Homo sapiens: one gene and its partners. The protein of the gene in region 1 purifies or fractionates together with the protein of each later gene. This does not show direct contact. Each region holds a gene or a part of one and is shown in the gene's direction. Other genes may lie near its edges.

Region 1 (3,500 bases):
TCCCATTGGGGATGAAACTGAACCCACAATAATTGAAAGAAGTGTGCAACCTTGTGACAATTACATTGCTTCCTTTGCGTGGCATCCAACAAGTCAAAATCGAATGATAGTTGTAACTCCCAACCGAACAATGTCAGACTTCACTGTTTTTGAAAGGATATCTCTTGCCTGGAGCCCAATTACATCTTTAATGTGGGCTTGTGGTCGTCATTTATATGAATGTACGGAAGAAGAAAATGATAATTCTTTAGAAAAAGATATAGCAACGAAGATGCGTCTTCGGGCTTTATCAAGGTATGGACTTGATACAGAGCAGGTGTGGAGGAACCACATTTTAGCTGGAAATGAAGATCCACAGCTCAAGTCACTCTGGTATACTCTGCACTATATCCTTTTCATTGTGAATTTTGTGAGGTGAATCAGGTAGAAATGTTCTTGAAGTTTGCCAAAAGGTCAGTCTGTAAATATGCTCAATGTTTTATATACAAATACAAGTTACATAATACTAACATTATAAAGTAAAATTGTTCTAAACTTTCGAACTTGAAATACTGCTTTGTAGATTGTGTAGGAGGAAGAAAAGTGTATCTCTGCAATAGAGTCGAACCACCTTATTTACACTGATACTTATTATGAATTGGCTCCAAATCAAAATAAATTTAGCTTTGAAATATATTGTCATGCATCACTAGTATTTCCTATGCATTTAAATACTTATGAAGCAATACACAGAAGATATGGATCAGAAATCTCCAGGCAACAAAGGATCATTGGTTTATGCAGGAATTAAATCAATTGTAAAGTCATCGTTGGGTAAGAAAATTCTATTTCATTTTCTCCAATATGTTTATAACTTTTGTACTTTTATTTTGCCCCCTGTCATTTGGCAGAAATTATCTAGTTATTTCAGGATCATGTACATAATTTTTTTTGTTTTCTGATTGGATATTTCATTGTATTGTTGAGTTAAATGCATACTTGTATTTATATCCAAAACCCTTTTTGCAGGGAGTCTTAATTCTCTGAAGTGATGTTGATCTTCTTAAATCTATCCACACGTTTATTCAATGTTATTTTTTTGAAAACCCACTTTGAGAGGTTTTACACTAGACAATTTACAGATTACTGATTGTTAGTTCAGGTTTTATCGCAACATTTTGCTTCTTAAAAACTAAAAAGATCTCTAATTGAAGGAGATCCCTTTTTATTTTGCTCCTCAAATACTTTCATTGAGCCATCTAACAGCAAGGAGTATGATATGAAATATGGCCTAACGTGGAGGAATTATACCTGATATAGTCCTTGGTTAATTAGTGAATGAATTAATTAACGTGTGAGTTAATGTAGGATTGAAAATTGGTATGGTAAACTATTAAAGAATAAAAGTGACAAAAACCAAACTTTTTTTTTTTTCTGACTGCTTTAAACAGTTGTTCCTATTCTTTTACTGGAATTGAATAATGGGTTATATTAGAATTGCAGGTTGAGTATACCTTATCCAAAATGGCTTGGGACCAAAAATGTTTCAGATACTTTCAGATTTTGAAATATTTGCGTTATATACTTAGAGATTGACCATCCCTATTCTGAAATCCAAAATGCTCCGATGAGCATTTCCTTTGAATATCATCTCAGCACTTAGAAAGTTTCAGATTTTGAAGCCTTTTGGACTTCAGTTTTCAGATTTGGGATGCTCACCCTGTATCTCTGTGATCTAGGATTCGTTCTCTAACTTTTGGTAAGTCAAATTTGGGCCCAAGTCAAGCTGTTAGAAAAGTAGTTAACATTATTTAGTCAAAGAGCAGTAATAGAAGTAGTAAATCCAATTTGATTTTTTACGGAGCTTGTATCAGTACCATACAAACAAAATACAAAATAATAAAATATTTTAGAGTAGGTTAAGTGTTTTAATTAAACTGTTACATTATAGTGTTTTTTTAACGTCTTTCAAATTACTTTGGTTCACTTTACTGAAAGATGCAGTAGACTACTTACTGATCAGTTTGATTTTATTGTTTTTGTATTAGCCCTCCACCAAAAAAAGTAACCTTTATTATAAATAGTAAAATGAATAAGTTTAGTTAGAAGCTGCTGTTTTTATTAACATAGGTAAAAGGGCACACATACTGTTTTACTCCCACAAATGAACCTGGTACCATGGTTCAAGATTTTAGAGCCATTGCCTATTGCTACAAAGAATTAAACACCAAGTTTATAGAATTTATAGTGTTTTAGCTATATAGTAGATCAGGCCACACTGCACTCAATTATTTAGAGGTTGGTTATTGTGTTTTTTGTATTTTGATATATTTTAAGGAAAAGCCAGCATCTGAGGAAAAGCAAAAGGGGAAAATGTAATATGTTTATGTTTCTGGTGCACTAGAGACAAACTGAGTATCCCACCCCTGTGTCAAAATAGTCTCTACCCAGACTAAAGAAACACTACTGTTGGAAAGATTTCCTCATTCATCATTCTCTCATTGCTAGGTTTTCAGCTTTTTTTTTTTTGTTTGGTATAGATATTTTTGTTTCTACTACCCAAAGGTGAAAAGTAGAGAAATACTGTCAAATATGCCACTCTTAGATTTCAGTCTTCTGTTTTATTTGGCCATACCTTTTCCTCTAATTGTATCTCTAATAATCAACACATGGTAAGTCAACACATTGAGCCATCTTGTCCACAGTAACCTAATACACAAGTTTATTAGAGCATACAGCTAAATTTTAATTTTGGTAACAAATAGTATATATATAAGTGCTTGCTATGAATTAGTTGCTTTTCCCATGTTACTTTAATTTTTACAACTACAATATGAAGTAAGCTCATTCATTCAGCAAGTATTTATTACCTACATGCATGCTATATGCCAGGAGTTATCCTAGGAACTAGAGACATAACTCTCAAGAAGATACATAAATCTCTTCCCTCATGGAGATTGAGCAGGATCAATGTCATCCCTGCTCTTGAGGAGTTTATATTCTAGTTTAGAATATAGACAAGTAAGCTGGCAGTTATAACATAGGGAAGAACAGACAGTTAATTACAGGAAGGACTCCTAATCTGGTTGCAGGGATTAGAGGTTTCTCAGAGGAGGTACAGTTAAAGACAAGGTCCAGACAGGGAGCAGCATGTGCAGTGGACCCAGAGGGTAGAGAGCATAGCACATTATTATGGCTGAAACAGAGCATGAGAGAGGAAGTGAGGAAAGAATGGAGGCTAGAAAGGTAAGCAGTGGGCTAACTCAAGAAAGACTTAGAAATCATGTTAAGAATTTAGGGAGATTCATCTTGTAAGACGGGGAAACAGATGGATTTGTGACAGATTTGTGTTTTAAAAGGATCAAGATTGATAGTAGGGATATCAGATAGAAGCCTGCTGCAAGGAGGCAAGACGTGATGCTATCCTTACCAAGGTTAGTAGCAGAGGAGCTAGAGAAATGTGGATACATTAGAGAATAGGAGAAAATTTAATGATTAATTAGATAAAGGGGTGGAGAAGA
Region 2 (3,500 bases), on another chromosome or scaffold:
TGAGGGAGCTTTCTCCCGTTGTTGTGCTGTAAGTCACAGAATGGCCAGAGTGACCTATTTGCCTTTTGTCGGGGATGAAGGTTGCTAGGGAGTTACTGTTCACGGTATCCCAACTCTCTTGTTGCTTTCTTTTTCAGCCCTCTGCTTTTGCAGGTCAAGTCTCTTAAGGAAGATTTACAGAAGGGTAAGAATTATATCACTCTTCTTAGAATTTTTTATTTACTGCCTCAGAAACTGTAAGAAATCTCTCTTCATAATTTCAAGGGATGAGGGCAAGTAATTCTCTTCTTTTTTAAACAAATTTTAATTTAACTTTCAATTCAGGCAGTACATGGGAATGTTTGTTACATGGGTATATTGTGTACTGGTGGGGATTGGGCTTCTATTGTATCCATTACACAGTGAACCTTGTATCTGACAGAACAGATACAGATAAAGAATGTTGTATCTGTGTCTTAACATTGTTTTTTTTTTTTTTTCTGAGACAGTGTCTTGTTCTGTCACCCAGGTTGGAGTGCAGTGGCGCGATCTCGGCTCACTGCAAGCTCCGCCTCCTGGGTTCACACCATTCTCCTCCCTCAGCCTCCCAAGTAGCTGGGACTACAGGCACCTGCCACCACGCCTGGCTAATTTTTTGTATTTTTAGTAGACACGAGGTTTCACCGTGTTAGCCAGGATGGTCTCAATCTCCTGACTTCATGATCCTCCTGCCTTGGCCCCCCAAAGTGCTGGGATTACAGGCGTGAGCCACCACACCCAGCCTGAACATTGTATTTTTCAACCTTCATTCTCTTCCCTGTCCTTGTTTTTGGAGTCCCAAGTGTCTATTATTTCCATCCCACTTATAGGTAAGAACATGCAGTATTTGGTTTTCTGTTTGTGAGTTAGTTCACTTAGGATAATGGTGGCCTCCAACTCCATCCATGTTGCTGCAGTGGACATGATTCCATTTTTTTATGACTGTAGTTCTCTTCTTATCAAACTATGTTGCCACTAAAAAAAAAATTGTAAAGTGACGCTTATAGTCCTAGCTACTCTGGAGGCTGAGGTGGAAGGATCATTGGGTCCCAAGAGTTTGAGGTTTCAATGAGCTATAACGGTGCCACCGCAGTCTAGCCTGGTCAACAGAGCAAGACCCTATCTCAAAAAAAAAAAAAAAAAAAAATAGGCCAGGCACGGTGGCTTATGCCTGTAATCCTGGGAGTTTGGGCGGCTGAGGCAGGCGGATTGCCTGAGCTCAGGAGTTTGCGACCAGCCTGGGCAAAACGGTGAAACCCTGTCTCTACTAAAATACAAAATATTAGCCGGGTGTGGTGGCATGCACCTATAATCCTAGCTACCCTGGAGGCCGAGGTAGGAGAATTACTTGAACCCGGGAGGCGGAGGTTGCAGTGAGCCGAGGTCACGCCACTGCACTCCAGCCTGGGCGACAGAGCGAGACTCCGGCTCAAAAAAAAAAAAAAAAAAAAAATACACAACCTGCCTGTTGCCCAGGTTGGTCTTGAACTCCTGGCCTCAAGTGGAGTTCCTGACACCTTGACCTCCCAAAGTGCTAAGATTGCAGGTGTGATCCACCACATCTGTCCCATTTTTTCACAAACTATTTGTTAAATGCCTACTCTGGGTGAGTAGGGATTGGGGAGGAAGAAATATATATTGATGATCGCCCACCACATTGTGCAAGGTACTATCCTGGGAGCTTTGTGTAATCTAGCATTATCTTCCCAACAACTCTTGAGTGAGTGAGGAAGTTTATTATCTGCCGGACTATACAGTCTAGGCGTAGCCAGAAGCAGTGATTCCTGCTTACTTATTCTGGATTCAAATCCTTTCTTTTTCCCTCTAATGGCTATGCCATGCTGTTCAAGGAACCAAAATGTTAATTGAAAGTAAATAAGATACTCTTTTAAATAGTTCTTAAGAGAAAAAAACAAAATTCTGGGTTGCTCTAAAGGGCTTTGATGGCTGGGTGCAGTGGCTGACGCCTGTAATCCCAACACTTTGGGAGGCTGAAGTAGGTGGATCACCTGAGGTCAGGAGTTTGAGACCAGCCTGACCAACATGGTAAAACCCCGTCTCTACTAAAAATATAAAATTAGCCAGGCATTGTGGCGCATGCCTGTAATCTCAGCTACTCGGGAAGCTGAGGCAGGAGAATTGCTTGAATCTGGGAGGCAGAAGTTGTGGTGAGCTGAGATCACGCCATTGCACTCCAGCCTGGGCAACAAGAACAAAACTCTGTCTCTAAATAAATAAATAAATAAAATAAAGGGCTTTGATGTCACCCACTCTTTCTTTTTTTTTAAAGAGATGGCGTCTCACTCTGTTGCCCAGGCTGGAGTCTGGAGTGCAGTCTCACAATCTTGGCTGACTGCAACCTGCGCCTCCTGGGTTCAAGTGATTCTCCTGCCTCAGCCTCCCAGGTAGTTAGGACTACAGGCGTGCACCACCATGCCTGGCTAATTTTTATATTTATATTTTTATTTTTTTGAGATGGAGTCTCACTCTGTCACCCAGGCTGGAACGCAATGACATGGTCTCAGCTCACTGCAACCTCCGCCTCCTGGATTCAAGGGATTCTCCTGCCTCAGCCTCCTCAGTAGCTGGGATTACAGGTGCACGCCACCACACCTGGCTAATTTTTGTATTTTTAGTGGAGACAGGGTTTCACTATGTTGTCCAGGCTAGTCTCGAACTGCTGACCTCGTGATCCGCCCTCCTCGGCCTCCCAAAGTGCTGGGATTACAGACATGAGCCACCATGCCCGGCCTAATTTTTATATATTTAGTAGAGATGGGGTTTCACCATGTTGGCCAGGCTGGTCTCAAATTCCTCACCCCAGGTGATCTGCCTGCCTCAACCTCCCAAAGTCCTGGGATTACAGGCGTGAGCCACTGCACCATTGCCCCTGCCTTTTTTTTTTTTCTTTTTCCCTTTCAGACAGGGCCTCTCTCTGTTGTCCAGACTGGAGTGCAGTGGTGCAGTCACGGCTCACTGCAGCCTCAACCTCCCTGGGTGCAAATGATTCTCCATCTCCCACCTCCGCCTCCCGAGTAGCTAAGACCCCAGACGCCCAGCCCACAGGATCATGCCTGGCTAATTTTTTTTTTTTTAATTTTTGCTCAGGCTGGTCTTGAACTCCTGGGCCCAAGCAGTCCTCATGCCTTGGCCTCCTAAAGTGCTAGGATTACAGGCATGAGTCACCATGCCTGGCTATCCACTCATATTTAACAATTCAATATTTCAATTTGAGGAGAAAACATTCTATAAAACCTGGCTACTCTGGTTACGCTGCCTATGGGTTATCCCTGCTCTGCAAGGAGCAGTAAAAAAAAAATTTAAAGTTTTCATTTTTATTGTTATGTTGTGTGGTGTTATGTTTTTTATGTTATGTTATGTTATGTTTGTTATGTTATGTTATGTTATTTTGAGATGGAGTATCCCTCTGTCGCCCAGGCTGGAGTGCAGTGGTGTGATTTTGGCTCACTGCAACTTCCACC
Region 3 (3,500 bases), on another chromosome or scaffold:
CCAGCTACTCGGGAGGCTGAGGCAGGAGAATCGCTTGAACCTAGGAGACAGAGGTTGCAGTGAGCTGAGATTGAGCCACTGCACTCCAGCCTGAGCAGCAGAGAGACTCTGTCTCAATAAAAAAAAAAGAAAAAGAGGCTTAGATTCTGATATGTACACATTTATTATTTGTGAGCTTCAGAAACAAAAATCTAGTATAATTTTAATTGAAATTTGTTTTTGTTCTTGTGATATCTTAAATGCATTATTTTTCAAGCTGGCATTAAACCTTAAGGTTTATTGGATCTTATTAAATAAAAATGCAGTTTCATATTTTATATCTTAATGTTTGTGACATTATTATGGCTATGCAGGGATCCTTGAGTCTCAAATGTGTATCTTTTTAAACAAGTGATTTTTGAAGTAACTATTTTTTATCATTATTATAGAGTTAAGAATTGGCAATATATTCTTTAAAACATGGTCTCTTTCAGTAATGTAGTGTGTTAGGAAGAGGGTAATGAAGTAACGTGCCATATTTAATCAGGATGATCAGATTAGCTTCAAAAAAGTGATGTCAATTTTGTTTTGCAGAATGCTGAACTATTAGTTTATAAAATTTTACTTGAATGGTATTGATTTACTGATAGTCTTTACTGACTTATTAGTTGCTCAGACTAATGGTTTAGATTGATTTTTGAGATTCCTTTTTCTTTGTATAGTAAAGCTAATTTTCCCATTTATTTATTATAGATGTAACATTCATTTTTAATATTTATTGAGTTATAGGCATTAAGAGTATCTTAATATAGGAAATAGTCAAATCTGTTGCATTTAACCATACGGTTAACATGCTAGATAATACTGTTTACATTATTGATTTTATCTCTCTGATATTACTTATGAGATGTTGAAAGATTAAATCAATTTCTCCCATACATGCCAGCAATAATCATCATCTTCACTTTTTGAGAAAGACATATCTCATATAAACCCAGACTTCTAGAATTACAGAAGTACCTTATAATTTGACTTTTTCAGTGTAAATGCATCACAAATATTTTTTTCTTTTTTTGATGGGGTAGGGAGGTTCACTGGACTGATTTCTTCTTATAACTACCTGGCTTTGTGTAAGACTATAGATTCTTATCCAAAACCCTCAGGGCCTGGTGTATTCTATCATTAAGATTAAAAAAATATATTTTAGAAAGTAATGAAGTACATATACTGATATGTTATATGTTAGGTTAAATTATTAGCAGGGTCTGAGGAGGAACTCTAACTAAACACATTATTTCTGCAGTGAAATATATGAATATTTATGTTAATTTGGACAAACAAAGCCAGAGTGCCTTATCAGTATGGATCAGGTTTTGCTGCTAAACATGTTTTGTAAAAACTTATGGATTGCAAAGTTTTTTGAATTTTGAATTTCAGCTAATCAATTCTGAGCCTGTAATAGATTGTGTTATGTATTATAATATTTATAGGTATGATTGTTTCTACAAATAATAAAAAATATAGCAAAATTATGTATCTTTATTGTTTTCCAATTTTTCTACTATTTCAACTTTTATCTTGTAAAATATTTTCTTTGTACAGCTGCTGTATTCTCGAGGATTACTAATTGATCTTCTAATCAAATCTAATGTTAGTCGATATGCAGAGTTTAAAAATATTACCAGGATTCTTGCATTTCGAGAAGGACGAGTGGAACAGGTACTGTGCTGATCAAGAATTGTAACTGGGCATCAGCTTAAGTTATTATGGTTTGTTTTGGAAAGATAAGCAAATAAGATTGTTATTTTCCTCATAAAGCAGTAAATTCCAGTCCTCCGTGGTGATTTACAAATGTAAATGCTTAATTAAAATTTCTAGTGCTAATTTTCTCATGGCTTACTCTGCAGCTTGGTGTTGGTACCAAGCAGCACACAAAAAACCAAAAAGCACACCAGAGTTACTATACCCAAGACTAGTCACACAAATCCTTTTCTCCCATTAATCAAGATTTTGGAGAGGGAAAAGAAAGAAACGGTGATTTTTGCTGTCCACTTGATCAGATTCCACACAGAGGAGGAGGCCCGGAGCCTGGTTGGGAAAAAATTCTTACCCTTATGACAGCTGATCAGATCCTGGGTTCTTCACTGCAGCTTCCAGAAGAGCAGAGCTTTGCTATCCTGCTCACAGCACCAAAACTGTAGGGGCCAAGGGAAACACTCCCTCTTAAGCCTCTGAAGTTTCACTGAAAAATCAACTCACAAAGGCAGATTAATTGGAGAAAAGGCATAAAAATGTACTAACATGTACATAGGGAGAACCACAGTGTTTGTTTTAGATAGCACTGCTAAATTTTTCTCTGTTAGGATGACATGCCGTTGGCCTTTTAATGGCATGGGGAGTAACTTGGCAGAATTAAGTAAGAAAGCTCACAATTAGCTCTGAAGTTAGCAGAGATGCCATTAGTACTGATGGACGGTGATGTGAAAAAGCCTGGCTAGAGTGGAAACGATAATCCTGTTATATGTAAAGGGGAAAAAAGTGTAATTTGGAATAGTTATATCATTAGGAAGCAGTTTCTTAACTTAAAATCATAATATTTTTCAGGTTCCGTGTTCCAGAGCAGATGTCTTTAATAGCAAACAACTTACTATGGTAGAAAAGCGAATGCTAATGAAATTTCTTACATTTTGTATGGAATATGAGAAATATCCTGATGAATATAAAGGTATTTTTTTCATTAAGTAGTGCTCTCCAATTATTTGACATTTCTTACTATTTTAATATGCTTGCTCTGATTTAGTGAGCCACTTATTACTGTTTTAAAATGCATTCTAACTCTGCACTATCAATAGGTTAGCCATTAGTAACATTTAGCTATTTAAATTTAAATTAATTAAAGTGAAATAAAATAAAATAAATTCAGTTTCTCAGTCTTATTAGCTGTATTTCAAGGGCTCCCATAGCCCCATGTGGCTACAGTGCAGATATTTTCATTGCTGAAGTGGCATGCTAGATTTTAATTTTTATTCTTATTATTTAAATACTACTGTCAACTGGCTCTTCATAGATGATAATCTGTTTTCATGATTCCATTATTTTTTCTCATAAGTAAAAATACTATATATTTTATCATTTTCCAGGATTGCTTTTGCATAGAATCTTGAACTATTTCGTTTGAAAAAAAAAGGCTAGATGGTATATGGGGAAAAATACTGGATTCAGAAAAGGCATGGTTTCTATTCTTGGCTTTGACCTATTTCATTATGTGATCTGGGGCCAGTTACTTCATTGTCTGTTAAAAATTGAATATGCCATTTTAGTGTCAGAGCTATATACTTTAAGTCCATTGGTCTGAAAATGTTATCCAAAATTGGAATATACTATTGATAATTTATTTATAAAGTTACAATGAGAAGTGCAGCGATATTTTTTTTCCTCTGTGAAATAATGAAAGTCTAATCCTTGCTCTTAAAGCTTCAAGTCTACTAGGTACTGTCATGTTGTTATCCACAGTGGCTGTG
Region 4 (3,500 bases), on another chromosome or scaffold:
AACTTTTTTTACAGTAGTGGTATCACGTTTAATGTTTTTTAGGAAAATGTCATGGACTTGTACTACATAAGAAGGAGATCTTTCTCACTCGTAGTTAACTGCTGCATAGTAGCCTACTATGAGGCTGTACCATAATTTGTTTAATGATTTGCCTATCGATGGATATTTATGTTTTTATTTTTTCATTATTTTAAGCACTGCTTCTATGGACATTCTCATATTATATAACTGTTTTTGCAAATTTGTTTGAGCATTCCTACGTGATGGATTGCATGAGTAAGAATCATGGGATCAAAGGGAAGGCTACATATTTGAATTTTTATAAATATTACCAGGTTATCCTCAAAGAATAGTGCTTACACTTTCAGCAGTATGTGAGTGAGCCCATTTGTCACATTCTTCCCCACTCTACATATATCACTTTTTCTAATCTTCATTAGTCTGACAGGTGAAATATGTTATCTTGTTTTAATGTGTATTTTTATTAGTAGTAAAGCTTTCATATATTTAATACCTATTTGTATTTCTTATGTACATTCTCTCTTTAGTGTCCTTTATCCTTTTTCCTATTATTAGTTTGATTTGTAAACCCTTTTAAGGGTATCAATCCTTTGTCAGTCATAGATGTTGTAAATATTTTTCTAGCTTGCTGTCTTTTAACTTTATTTATAGTATCTTTTGTTGGTTAAAATTTTAATATCAGGAAATACTAAGTGAACAAAGTGAGAACATTTCTATCTTTTTGTCTGTTCTGGAATCGTTTAAATATGAAAATAATAAACTGCTCCTGAGGCTTCAGTAAATCTCATTAGGTAAAGCTGTTTTGGCCCAGTGCCTTTTAAGAGGGTAAATCTTGGTCTGCAATTGCATTTTTTTCCAGGATTTTTTCCATTTTATTTATTTATTTTTAACCAATTCCTTCTAACCTCTTGGCTGTTTTCAGTTTGTCATTACTATAGATACTACTACAGTGACCATCCTTGTAACACACTCTTTATGACTATGACTTATTGAATCCTTAATTACAATTTGTGGAATTTCTGGATACGTATGTTTTTAAAGGCTTTTCACAGGATTACTATCCAAAGAGAGTATATCCATTCGTTTTCTTACTATCAGGGTATGAGAATGTCTGATTTCCTGTACCTTTATTAAAGTTAGGATGTTCCCTAGCTCTTTTTTTTTTTTTTTTTTTTTTTTTTTTTTTTTTTTTCTGAGGCGGAGTCTCGCTCTGTCGCCCAGGATGGAGTGCAGTGGCGGGATCTCGGCTCACTGCAAGCTCCGCCTCCCGGGTTCATGCCATTCTCCTGCCTCAGCCTCCCAAGTAGCTGGGACTACAGGCGCCCGCCACTACGCCCGGCTAATTTTTTGTATTTTTTAGTAGAGACGGGGTTTCACCGTTTTAGCCGGGATGGTCTCGATCTCCTGACCTCGTGATCCGCCCGCCTCGGCCTCCCAATTTCCCTAGCTCTTAATAGAGGGGTAGATACAGCTCTTCTTGTTTTCCTTCTCCTGTCACCATTTTCCTCACCCAGTAGCCAAGAATGTTAAATATTTAGGGGAAAATTCAACTAAAAAATGGAGTTTTCAGAAATGGAGTAAGGATTCCACAAGGTAATTAACTGCCACCGCCATCATCCCTCTTTATTCTCTGTTAACAAGCTAGAGCTGATGATGGTTCTCTTGTTCCTAAGAACCTCTCAGAAAGGAAAAAGAAGTCAGCTCAAGAGCGTTCTCAGGCCGAGGAGGAGATAGATGAAATTCGCAAGTCATACCAGGAGGAATTGGACAAACTTCGACAGCTCTTGAAAAAGACTCGAGTGTCCACAGACCAAGCAGCTGCAGAGCAGGTAATGGGAAACTGAAGCACTTTGAAAATAGAGGGAAGGTGTGAAGGACTCAGAGAGAAAAGCTTCTGGTTTCTTCCTTACCCTTTAGGATGACATTTCTCATAGCTGATACTCTCACTTTGGAGAAAGGTAGAAAAAGTAATCCAGATATGTGCAGGAGAGCCAGGAATCAAATGGAGAATCTTCTTTCTTTTTTTAAAGCTTAGTTAATATTTAATTACATAAGTAAAAATGAAAAATAGTTTCCTTACAAAAAAAATTCCAAACATGGTAAGGCCAAAACCATCAACCATTGGACACCATCCTTCAGGCACATTATCATCCTTGAAAAGAAGGGATTGATTTAGGTCATCAGGAAGGGAACCAGGGATAGTGGCAGGACACAGCTGGATCTCTAGTCTGTGCAACAGCAACCTTTCTCATTATAAGCTTAAAATTTATATGCATACATTTGTTTAATTAGAGTGCATTGGTGCCCTCAATTTGACCACCTCTGGGAATTTTGGTGAAAAAAAGTTTCTGAACCTATAAAGTTTAGGGTTCAGACCCTGAAAAGCAGTGATCACATGGCCCTGCCCTCCAGGGACCTATCTAGATAGGCACACTTTTGTCTGCTTGGAGTACCTTTTGGAGTCCTGACAACCAATGACATCTTAAGAAGTGCATTTATTTTAAAAGTAATGAGTCTTTTAAACAGTTTCCCAGTTAAATCTGGGCTGTTAGCTTATTCTTTTGCTTTTTGAAAGATGGGTTTCCCTAGGTGCAATGGAATCTCACTCCCCCACCCCCAAGGATGATATGGTCATTACTTTCTCTTGGCAGCTGTCTTTAGTACAGGCTGAGCTACAGACCCAGTGGGAAGCAAAATGTGAACATTTGTTGGCCTCCGCCAAGGATGAGCACCTGCAGCAGTACCAGGAGGTGTGCGCACAGAGAGATGCCTACCAGCAGAAGCTGGTACAACTTCAGGAAAAGGTACATATTTTTCTTGAGTCAGACAGTTTAGGCAGCCCAGTTAATTTGAGGCAAGCAGGCTGTTTGAGTCCTGTCGATCCTTCTAAGCCTGAAAGTTATTAATATCTAGAAGACAAAACCACACTTGTTTAGCTTGTCAGTTATCTTTCACATACTTATGTGGGGTGATAGGTCAGTGACCTGGAAAAAGAGAAAACAGCACTAGTGTTCCGGAACATGTTTCCCATTATTATTGGATCCTTCATTTATTAAGCAAATATTTATTGAGAGTCAGTTGTATTCCATCCAGTGTGTTAAAGGAAGTGCATACAAGGAACCCTTCCCTCATGTATCTCACAGTCAAGAAAGGGAGACAAAGAAACAAAGATAGGTGTTAAGTGCTATGGGGCCCAGAAGAGGAAGTACCCAGGAGAGCTGGGAAGGTTTCCCAAAGGTGGTGACATTTGAGCAGAGCCAAGAAGGACAAATAGCTTTGGTAAGGCAGCAAAGGAGGCAGAACATCCTGGGCAAAGGCACTGAGATAGGATGGAGGCTGGGGTGTGGTGGGATCATCAGGCCTGAAAAAGAGAGATGGGACATGGCTTAGGGTCATGGTGTGAAAGTCCATATTCGAGGTCAGTTTCTTTCCTTAAAGTGTCCAGTTGAAAACTTTTGGCTCAGAGATCTTGGAGGCAA
Region 5 (3,500 bases), on another chromosome or scaffold:
TATTTTGAAGGCAGAGCTGATGGAATTTGCCAACGGGTCGGGTGTGGGTGTAAGAGAAACAAAGGAGTCAAGAGTGGCTCCCAGGTTGTGTGCCTGAGCAGAGGGAAGAATGGAGTGGGAGGCGGCAGGTTTGGGGGAATCAGCGGTTTGGCTGCGGTCGTCCTGGATTTGAGGGACCTTTAGACATCCAGGTGGAGATACCAAGCAGGCAGTGGCTACTCAGTGCCAGAGTTGAGGGGACAGACAAGCTAGCGTGGGACTTTTGGGAGTGGTCAGCAGCCTGGTTTCTTCCCCACCATCCTGCGTCCCTTCTCCTTCCTAGCATCTCCTGACCCTTCTTGTGTCTGGGGTCAGGGAGGAGAGTGGGGCCCTGCTGACCTTCTGCTCGCCCTGCTCAGGTGGACTACGTGGAGCCCAGCCAGAACACCATCTCCCTGAAGATGATCCCACGCATCGACTACGATCGCATCAAGGCCCGCATGAGCTTGGTACTCAGGGGAATCTGTGGCCTGGGGGGGAGGGAGTGTGCTCGATCCCACTGGTGGCCAAGCCCCCTCCCTCACCCTTCCCACCCATGCCCCTTTCCTCCATAGAAAGACTGGTTTGCCAAAAGGAAGAAGTTTAAGCGGCCTCCACAGAGGCTGTTTGATGCTGAGAAGATCAGGTGCGTGTCCTTGGGGACTGGCTGGGCTGGGTCCCCAGGGCCGGTGTGTAGAATGTGCCTTTTGCAGGTTCCTCCCCAGGGGTGGCCCCGCCACAGGTTTAGCCTGTGAATTGGTTAGCTTGGCAGTATAGCCTCAGGCAAGTCACTTCACATCCCTGTGCCTCAGTTTCTTCTGCTATAAAGATTGATGAGGCTGGGCGCAGCGGGAGGGAGCACTTTGGAAGGCTAAGGCAGGAGGCTTGCTTGAGGCAAGGAGTTCGAGACCAGCCTGGGCAACATAATGAGATCCCATCTTTTAAAATAATAATAATAATAAAAAGAAAAAAGTTAAAAAAATATTTAAAAAGATTGATGAGGCTGGGCGTGATGGCTCACACCTATAATCCCAGCGCTTTGGGAGGCCGAGGCGGGCGGATCACTTGAGGTCAGGAGTTCAAGACCAGCCTGGCCAACATGGTGAAACCTTGTCTCTACTAAAAATACAAAAATTAGCCAAGGGTTGTGGTCAGCTCCTGTAATCCAAGCTACTTGGGAGGCTGAGGCAGGAGAATCGCTTAAACCCACGAGGCAGAAATTGCAGTGAGCCGAGATCGTGCCACTGCACTCCAGCCTGGGTGACAGAGCGAGACTCCGTCTCAAAAAAAAAGAAAACAACCTCTGCTTCCTCAGATTATAGATTATAGTGAGAATTAAATAAATTAGTATGCATATGTACTCAGAATGCCCTTGGCACGTAGTAAGTGTGATCCATGGTGTGATATATTGAAATGGGATTCATGGACTATGTCAGGCTTTAGAAAGTCTCCTTTCCTGATCTGCTTATGCCCACTTGAGATGGGGGGGTATGGAGTGCCTTTCCCTCAGGATGCCCCCCAGACTCCCTAGCTGGGTAGAGAATTGGAGCAGCCCAGGAATTTCAACATCCCAGGGCCAACTGGGGGCTCCGGCAGGGAGGGCAGGAGAGGAGGACATGGAGAAACGAGAGGTGCCAGTGACACTCTTCCCTCTGGTCCTGTTCTAGAACTAATTGTGTGTGATTCAGCCAGTCAGGTTTTCCTTCAGATAAAGGAAGAGCTGTGGAATGCACCTTTGAGTCTGCACCCAAGGGCCTTGCTAATACTTCACCTGCCTGAGTTCGGACCCATTTATACCACTGGTTTCGACTCACCTGAACCTCTCTTTGCAAAGAACAAACCCTAGTGCTCCCTTACCCCCCAGCAAGCCAGCTGACCAAGTACCCCAGCATGCCCAGCAGAGCATGCTGGCCCCTCTCCCAGATTCACCATGGGAGAAGGCGATTGCATGAGCGCAGGAGGAACTTGACCTGCTCCTCCATGAAGGAGGCTCCTTCCCCACCCCGGAGACTCGGAACAGGCACTAAGCGGCCGCCACTCCACATTTGGGGCCGGGAGCTGCAGGCTTGGGAGTCCCACCTGCCTGCTTTTGAATCCTGTCAAGACTGTGGCTTGGCACCCTTGGGCATGTGATGTGACCTTCCTGAGCCTGCATTCCCTCACCTGGAAATGATGAGCAGTTACTGATGCCACAGATTTGGGGAAGAGCCTGTGAGGTCATGAGTGTGCAGGCCAGGCTGAGCGCTCTGCGAATATTCACTGGTATCATTGTCTGAAACTGTTATTTTGTTCAGCTAATGTTTACTGCATACTTTCTGTGTACTGGGCACTATTCTTGGTGAAATTTAGTGAATGTTACATCCCTGACCTTCTGGAGCTGACATGCTAGTTAGGGGGACAGGTCAAACACTAGATTGTCAGATGGTGATCGGTGCTCAAAGATAAATCAGGGAATGGGTGGAGGAGTGCAGGGAGGTGGGAGGCGGGCCTTTGGGGTTTGTGAGAAGTCACTGCTGCCAAGAGGGTGTGTGCTGGGATGGGATGGGTCAGTCTGCCTGTGGTCCTCTCCTTCTGTTGCCAGCTGAGAAGACTGAGGTACAGCAAGATTTTCTTCTTGACTCTCCCTTCTAATCTTCTCTCCCCCATCAAATTCCAGGTCCCTGGGGGGTGATGTTGCCTCTGATGGTGACTTCCTCATCTTTGAGGGGAACCGTTACAGCCGGAAGGGCTTTCTGTTCAAGAGCTTCGCCATGTCTGCTGTGGTGAGGGTCCCAGAGGGGTGTTGGTAATGGGGGTGGTGTGAGTGTTCTCCTGCAGGTGATGCCCTGGGCTGTGGGTTATCTGGTTCTGTCCCACTCCTCAAGTTAGGAGTGTTCCCTAGGAGAATTATTCCCCTAGGACCCACTCAGCCCACTCAGCTGGGCTGTTGCACTGACCTCGGTCCATTTCCTTCTCTTCCCCTCACCGCTGGGGGCTTAGATCACGGAGGGTGTGAAGCCAACACTCTCTGAGCTGGAAAAGTTTGAGGACCAGCCAGAGGGCATTGACCTGGAGGTGGTGACTGAGAGCACAGGTATTTGATCCCCCTCTATAACCTGGGCCAAGGAGCAGGGGCGGCCCATGGTGGCAACCCCCGAGTCAGCCCTACGACTGCCCCTGCAGGGAAGGAGCGGGAGCACAACTTCCAACCTGGGGACAACGTGGAGGTCTGTGAGGGTGAGCTCATCAACCTGCAGGGCAAGATCCTCAGCGTGGATGGCAACAAGATCACCATCATGCCCAAGCATGAGGACCTCAAGGTGGGTGCCCGGTGTTCTCGGGCAGGGGTTGGAGTGTTCAGGCACATCTGACTGTATGTGGCTGTCGAGGCGGTGGTGTGCCTGGTGACACCTGGTTTCCAGGAGGGTAAGTTGAGGCCCTTCTAGCATTCTCAGGTGCCTGAGAGGCTCTGTCTGAGTGCAGCTCAGGGTCGGTGGGCAGCA
Region 6 (3,500 bases), on another chromosome or scaffold:
AGTTGGGCATGGTGGCGCATGCGTGTCGTCCCAGCTACTTGGGAGGCTGAGGCAGGAGAATTGCCTGAACCAGGGAGTCAGAGGTTGCAGTGAGCTGAGATGGCCCCACTGTGCTCCAGCCTGGTGACAGAGCAAGACTCCGTCTCAAAAAAAATCAGCTGGGTATGGTGGCGCACACCTGTAATGCCAGCTACTCAGGAGGATGAGGCAGAAAAATTGCTTGAAACCAGGGGGCGGAGATTGCAGTGAGCCAAGATCTCTCCACTGCACTCCAACCTGAGCAACAAGAGCGAAACTCCCATCTCAGAAGAAAAAAAAGAAAAGCATATATTACCTCTAGCTTCAGGGAATTTTAGTTAAGGTTTAACATCACGTAGAGTCATGTAGAGCAGTGTCTTGAATAAAAATTTTTGTTTAAAAAGTAAAACCTGGCAGGGCTCGGTGGCTCACGCCTGTAATCCCATCACTTTGGCCCAGGTGGGTGGATCACGAGGTCAGGAGTTAGAGACCAGCCTGGCCAACATGGTGAAACCTCGTCTCTACTAAAAGTACAGAAAATTAGCTGGGCATGGTGGCAGGCGCCTGTAATCCCAGCTATTCAGGAGGCTGAGGCAGGAGAATCGCTTGGACCCGGGAGGCGAAGGTTTCAGTGAGCCGAGATTGTGCCACTGCACTCCAGCCTGGGTGACAGAGTGAGACTCTGTCTCAAAAAAATAAAAAGTAAGACTTGGGCTGGGCATGGTGGCTCACACCTGTAATCCTAGCACTTTGGGAGGCCAAGGCGGGTGGATCACCTGAGGTCAGGAGTTCAAGACCAGCCTGGCCAAGATGGTGAAACCTCATTTCTACTAAAAATGCAAAAATTAGCCAGGTGTGGTTGCATGCGCCTGTAATCCCAGCTACTCGGGGGGCTGAAGCAGGAGAATCACTTGAACCCGGGAGGCGGAGTTTGTGGTGAGCCAGGATCGCACCATTGCACTCCAGCCTGGGCGAACAACAAAACTCCATCTCAAAAAAAATAAAAATAGGGCTGGGTGCGGTGGCTCACGTCTGTAATCCCAGCACTTTGGGAGGCGGAGGCGGGCGGATCACGAGGTCAGGAGATTGAGACCATCCTGGCTAACATGGTGAAACCCCATCTCTACTAAAAATACAAAAAAATAAGCCGGGCGTGGTGGCAGGTGCCTATAGTCCCAGCTACTTGGGAGGCTGAGGCAGGAGAATGGCATGAACCCGGGAGGCAGAGCTTGCAGTGAGCAGAGATTGCACCACTGCACTCCAGGCTGGGCGACAGAGCGAGACTCCATCTCAAAAATAAATAAATAAAAATAAAAATGTATATTTTTTCCACGCCCAACTGGAAATAGTTTTTTTTTTCTTTATTTAAATATTCTACTCATATGGTTGAGTCACTAGATGCATAAGTGTTTAGTAATTTGGTGAGGTTTATATTATACTGCCTGCTCTTTTTTTTTTTTCTTGAGACGGAGTTTTTGTACTTGTTGCCCAGTCTGGAGTGCAATGAATGGCGCGATCTCGGCTCACTGCAACCTCCACCTCCCAGGTTCAAGTGATTATCCTGCCTCAGACTCTCGAGTAGCTGGGATTACAGGCATGTGCATCCACATCCGGCTAATTTTGTATTTTTAGTAGAGACAGGGTTTCTCCATGTTGGTCAGGCTGGTCTCAAACTTTCAACCTCAGGTGATCCACCCACCTTGACCTCCCGAAGTGCTGGGATTACAGGCGTGAGCCACCGCGCCTGGCCATATACTGCCTGCTCTTAAACAAGTTGTACATTAATATCTTTGTCTGGCACACTTAAGAATGAGGTGTTTGATCTAATTATTTTTATGCAGTAAGCTCTGTGAGAATGTAGAGGTACCCAAAGGTTTTATTGTGTGGAGCTTCACGCTTAGAAAGCCTTTTTTTTGAGACGGAGTTTCACTCTTGTTGCTCAGGCTGGAATGCAATAGCTGGATCTCAGCTCACTACAACCTCTGCTCCCTGGCTTCAAGCAGTTTTCCTGCCTCAGCCTCCCGAGTAGCTGGGATTATAGGCATGTGCCACTACGCCTGGCTAATTTTGTATTTTTAGTAGAGACGGAGTTTTTCTCCACATTGGTCAGGCTGGTCTCAAACTCCCGACCTCAGGTGATCCGCCTGCCTCGGCCTCCCAAGGTGCTGGGATTACAGGCGTGAGCCACCGTGCCTGGCCTGAAATATTTTTTTTTTTTAATCAAGTAATAACTGCCTACCTAGAACACTTTAATCTTATTAAAAAAATTTTTTTGGGGTGGCGGGGGGTCTCGCTCTGTTTTCCAGGCTGGAGTGTGCAGTGGCATGATCTCGGCTCACTGCAACCTCCGCCTCTTCGGTTCAAGCAATTCTGTCTCAGCCTCCCAAGTAGCTGGGACTACAGGCGCATACCACCACACCTAGCTAATTTTGGTATTTTTAGTAGAGATGGGGTTTCACCATATTGGTGAAGCTGGTCTCAAACTCCTGACCTCAGGTGATCCTACCACCTCGGCCTCCCAAAAAAATTATTTTTTAGAGATATGGTCTCACTCTGTTGCCTAAGCTGGAGTGCGGTGGTGCAGTCACAGCTTACTGCAGCTTCCAGCTCCTGGGCTCAAGCAATCCTGCCCCAGCTTCCCAAGTAGCTAGGACTATAGGTATGTCCACCACGCCCTGCTAAATTTTTCATAGAGATGAGGTTTTGCTATGTTGCCCAGGTTGGTTTTTAACTCTGGGCTTCCAGCTATCCTCAGTCTTCCAAAGTGTTGGGTTTACAGGCGTGAAGCATGGCACCCAGCCCCCTTTATCTTAGATACCATTTTTGGAGTCATTGCTTCTTCCCAAAAGTCCATAATTCAACCATTTAATAATTGGTATATTATGTGCCTTTCACTGTTAAAAGAGGGATTTTGTTTATTTTGGGGTTTTTTTGAGACGGAATCTCACTCTGTCACCCAGGCTGTCGTGCAGTGACATGATCTCAGGTCACTGCAACCTCTGCCTCTGGAGTAACTGGGACTACAGGCACATGCCACCACTCCTGGCTAATTTTTGTATTTTTAATAGAGATGGGGTTTCACCATATTGGCCAGGCTGGTCTCGAACTCCTGACCTCAAGTGATCTGCCCGCCTTGGCCTCCCAAAGTGCTGGGATTACAGGCGTGAGCCACCGTGCACAGCCAAAAAAGAGATTTTAGCATTATGTGAAAATATCTTGTGAGGAGTGAAAGTAATATAAAAATGGTAAATACATAAAATGTGTTTACAGTAACATAAAAACACAAAGATGACCAGTTGGTGGTCATCTTTGACCACTGTGACACACCATGAGCTAAAAATAAAATTTGCTGTTCAAATGAATGATTTGATAAAACTCTTAAAGTTGGCTAGTTATGGGATAAAGTTTCATAAAAAAAAATGTGTCTTGACCTGAGTTGTAAAAGTTGAAAAGTTTACTTGGTTGAAGCAGAAGATAAGGAA

The links.
Region 2: the proteins of MIOS (region 1) and DEPDC5 purify together in Homo sapiens (affinity purification with western blotting; 3 studies listed by BioGRID and IntAct, with this or other methods). This does not show direct contact.
Region 3: the proteins of MIOS (region 1) and CHM purify together in Homo sapiens (co-immunoprecipitation; one large-scale study listed by IntAct). This does not show direct contact.
Region 4: the proteins of MIOS (region 1) and FKBP15 purify together in Homo sapiens (affinity purification with mass spectrometry, with the first as the bait; one large-scale study listed by BioGRID). This does not show direct contact.
Region 5: the proteins of MIOS (region 1) and SUPT5H purify together in Homo sapiens (affinity purification with mass spectrometry, with the first as the bait; one large-scale study listed by BioGRID). This does not show direct contact.
Region 6: the proteins of MIOS (region 1) and CCT3 purify together in Homo sapiens (co-immunoprecipitation; one large-scale study listed by IntAct). This does not show direct contact.

The regions. Positions count from the first base shown.
Region 1 is NC_000007.14:7,573,384-7,576,883, forward strand, and holds part of MIOS (GATOR2 complex protein MIOS), read left to right. Parts: coding exon 1-386; intron 387-714; coding exon 715-813; intron 814-3,500. UniProt on the Homo sapiens protein: As a component of the GATOR2 complex, functions as an activator of the amino acid-sensing branch of the mTORC1 signaling pathway. The GATOR2 complex indirectly activates mTORC1 through the inhibition of the GATOR1 subcomplex.
Region 2 is NC_000022.11:31,760,519-31,764,018, forward strand, and holds part of DEPDC5 (GATOR1 complex protein DEPDC5), read left to right. Parts: intron 1-137; coding exon 138-184; intron 185-3,500. UniProt on the Homo sapiens protein: As a component of the GATOR1 complex functions as an inhibitor of the amino acid-sensing branch of the mTORC1 pathway.
Region 3 is NC_000023.11:85,957,059-85,960,558, reverse strand, and holds part of CHM (rab proteins geranylgeranyltransferase component A 1), read left to right. Parts: intron 1-1,581; coding exon 1,582-1,698; intron 1,699-2,583; coding exon 2,584-2,704; intron 2,705-3,500. UniProt on the Homo sapiens protein: Substrate-binding subunit of the Rab geranylgeranyltransferase (GGTase) complex.
Region 4 is NC_000009.12:113,172,778-113,176,277, reverse strand, and holds part of FKBP15 (FK506-binding protein 15), read left to right. Parts: intron 1-1,694; coding exon 1,695-1,850; intron 1,851-2,672; coding exon 2,673-2,825; intron 2,826-3,500. UniProt on the Homo sapiens protein: May be involved in the cytoskeletal organization of neuronal growth cones. Seems to be inactive as a PPIase. Involved in the transport of early endosomes at the level of transition between microfilament-based and microtubule-based movement.
Region 5 is NC_000019.10:39,466,082-39,469,581, forward strand, and holds part of SUPT5H (transcription elongation factor SPT5), read left to right. Parts: intron 1-398; coding exon 399-488; intron 489-593; coding exon 594-664; intron 665-2,140; exon of another isoform or gene 2,141-2,212; intron 2,213-2,674; coding exon 2,675-2,780; intron 2,781-2,997; coding exon 2,998-3,091; intron 3,092-3,180; coding exon 3,181-3,317; intron 3,318-3,500. UniProt on the Homo sapiens protein: Component of the DRB sensitivity-inducing factor complex (DSIF complex), which regulates mRNA processing and transcription elongation by RNA polymerase II.
Region 6 is NC_000001.11:156,321,293-156,324,792, reverse strand, and holds part of CCT3 (T-complex protein 1 subunit gamma), read left to right. Parts: intron 1-3,500. UniProt on the Homo sapiens protein: Component of the chaperonin-containing T-complex (TRiC), a molecular chaperone complex that assists the folding of actin, tubulin and other proteins upon ATP hydrolysis.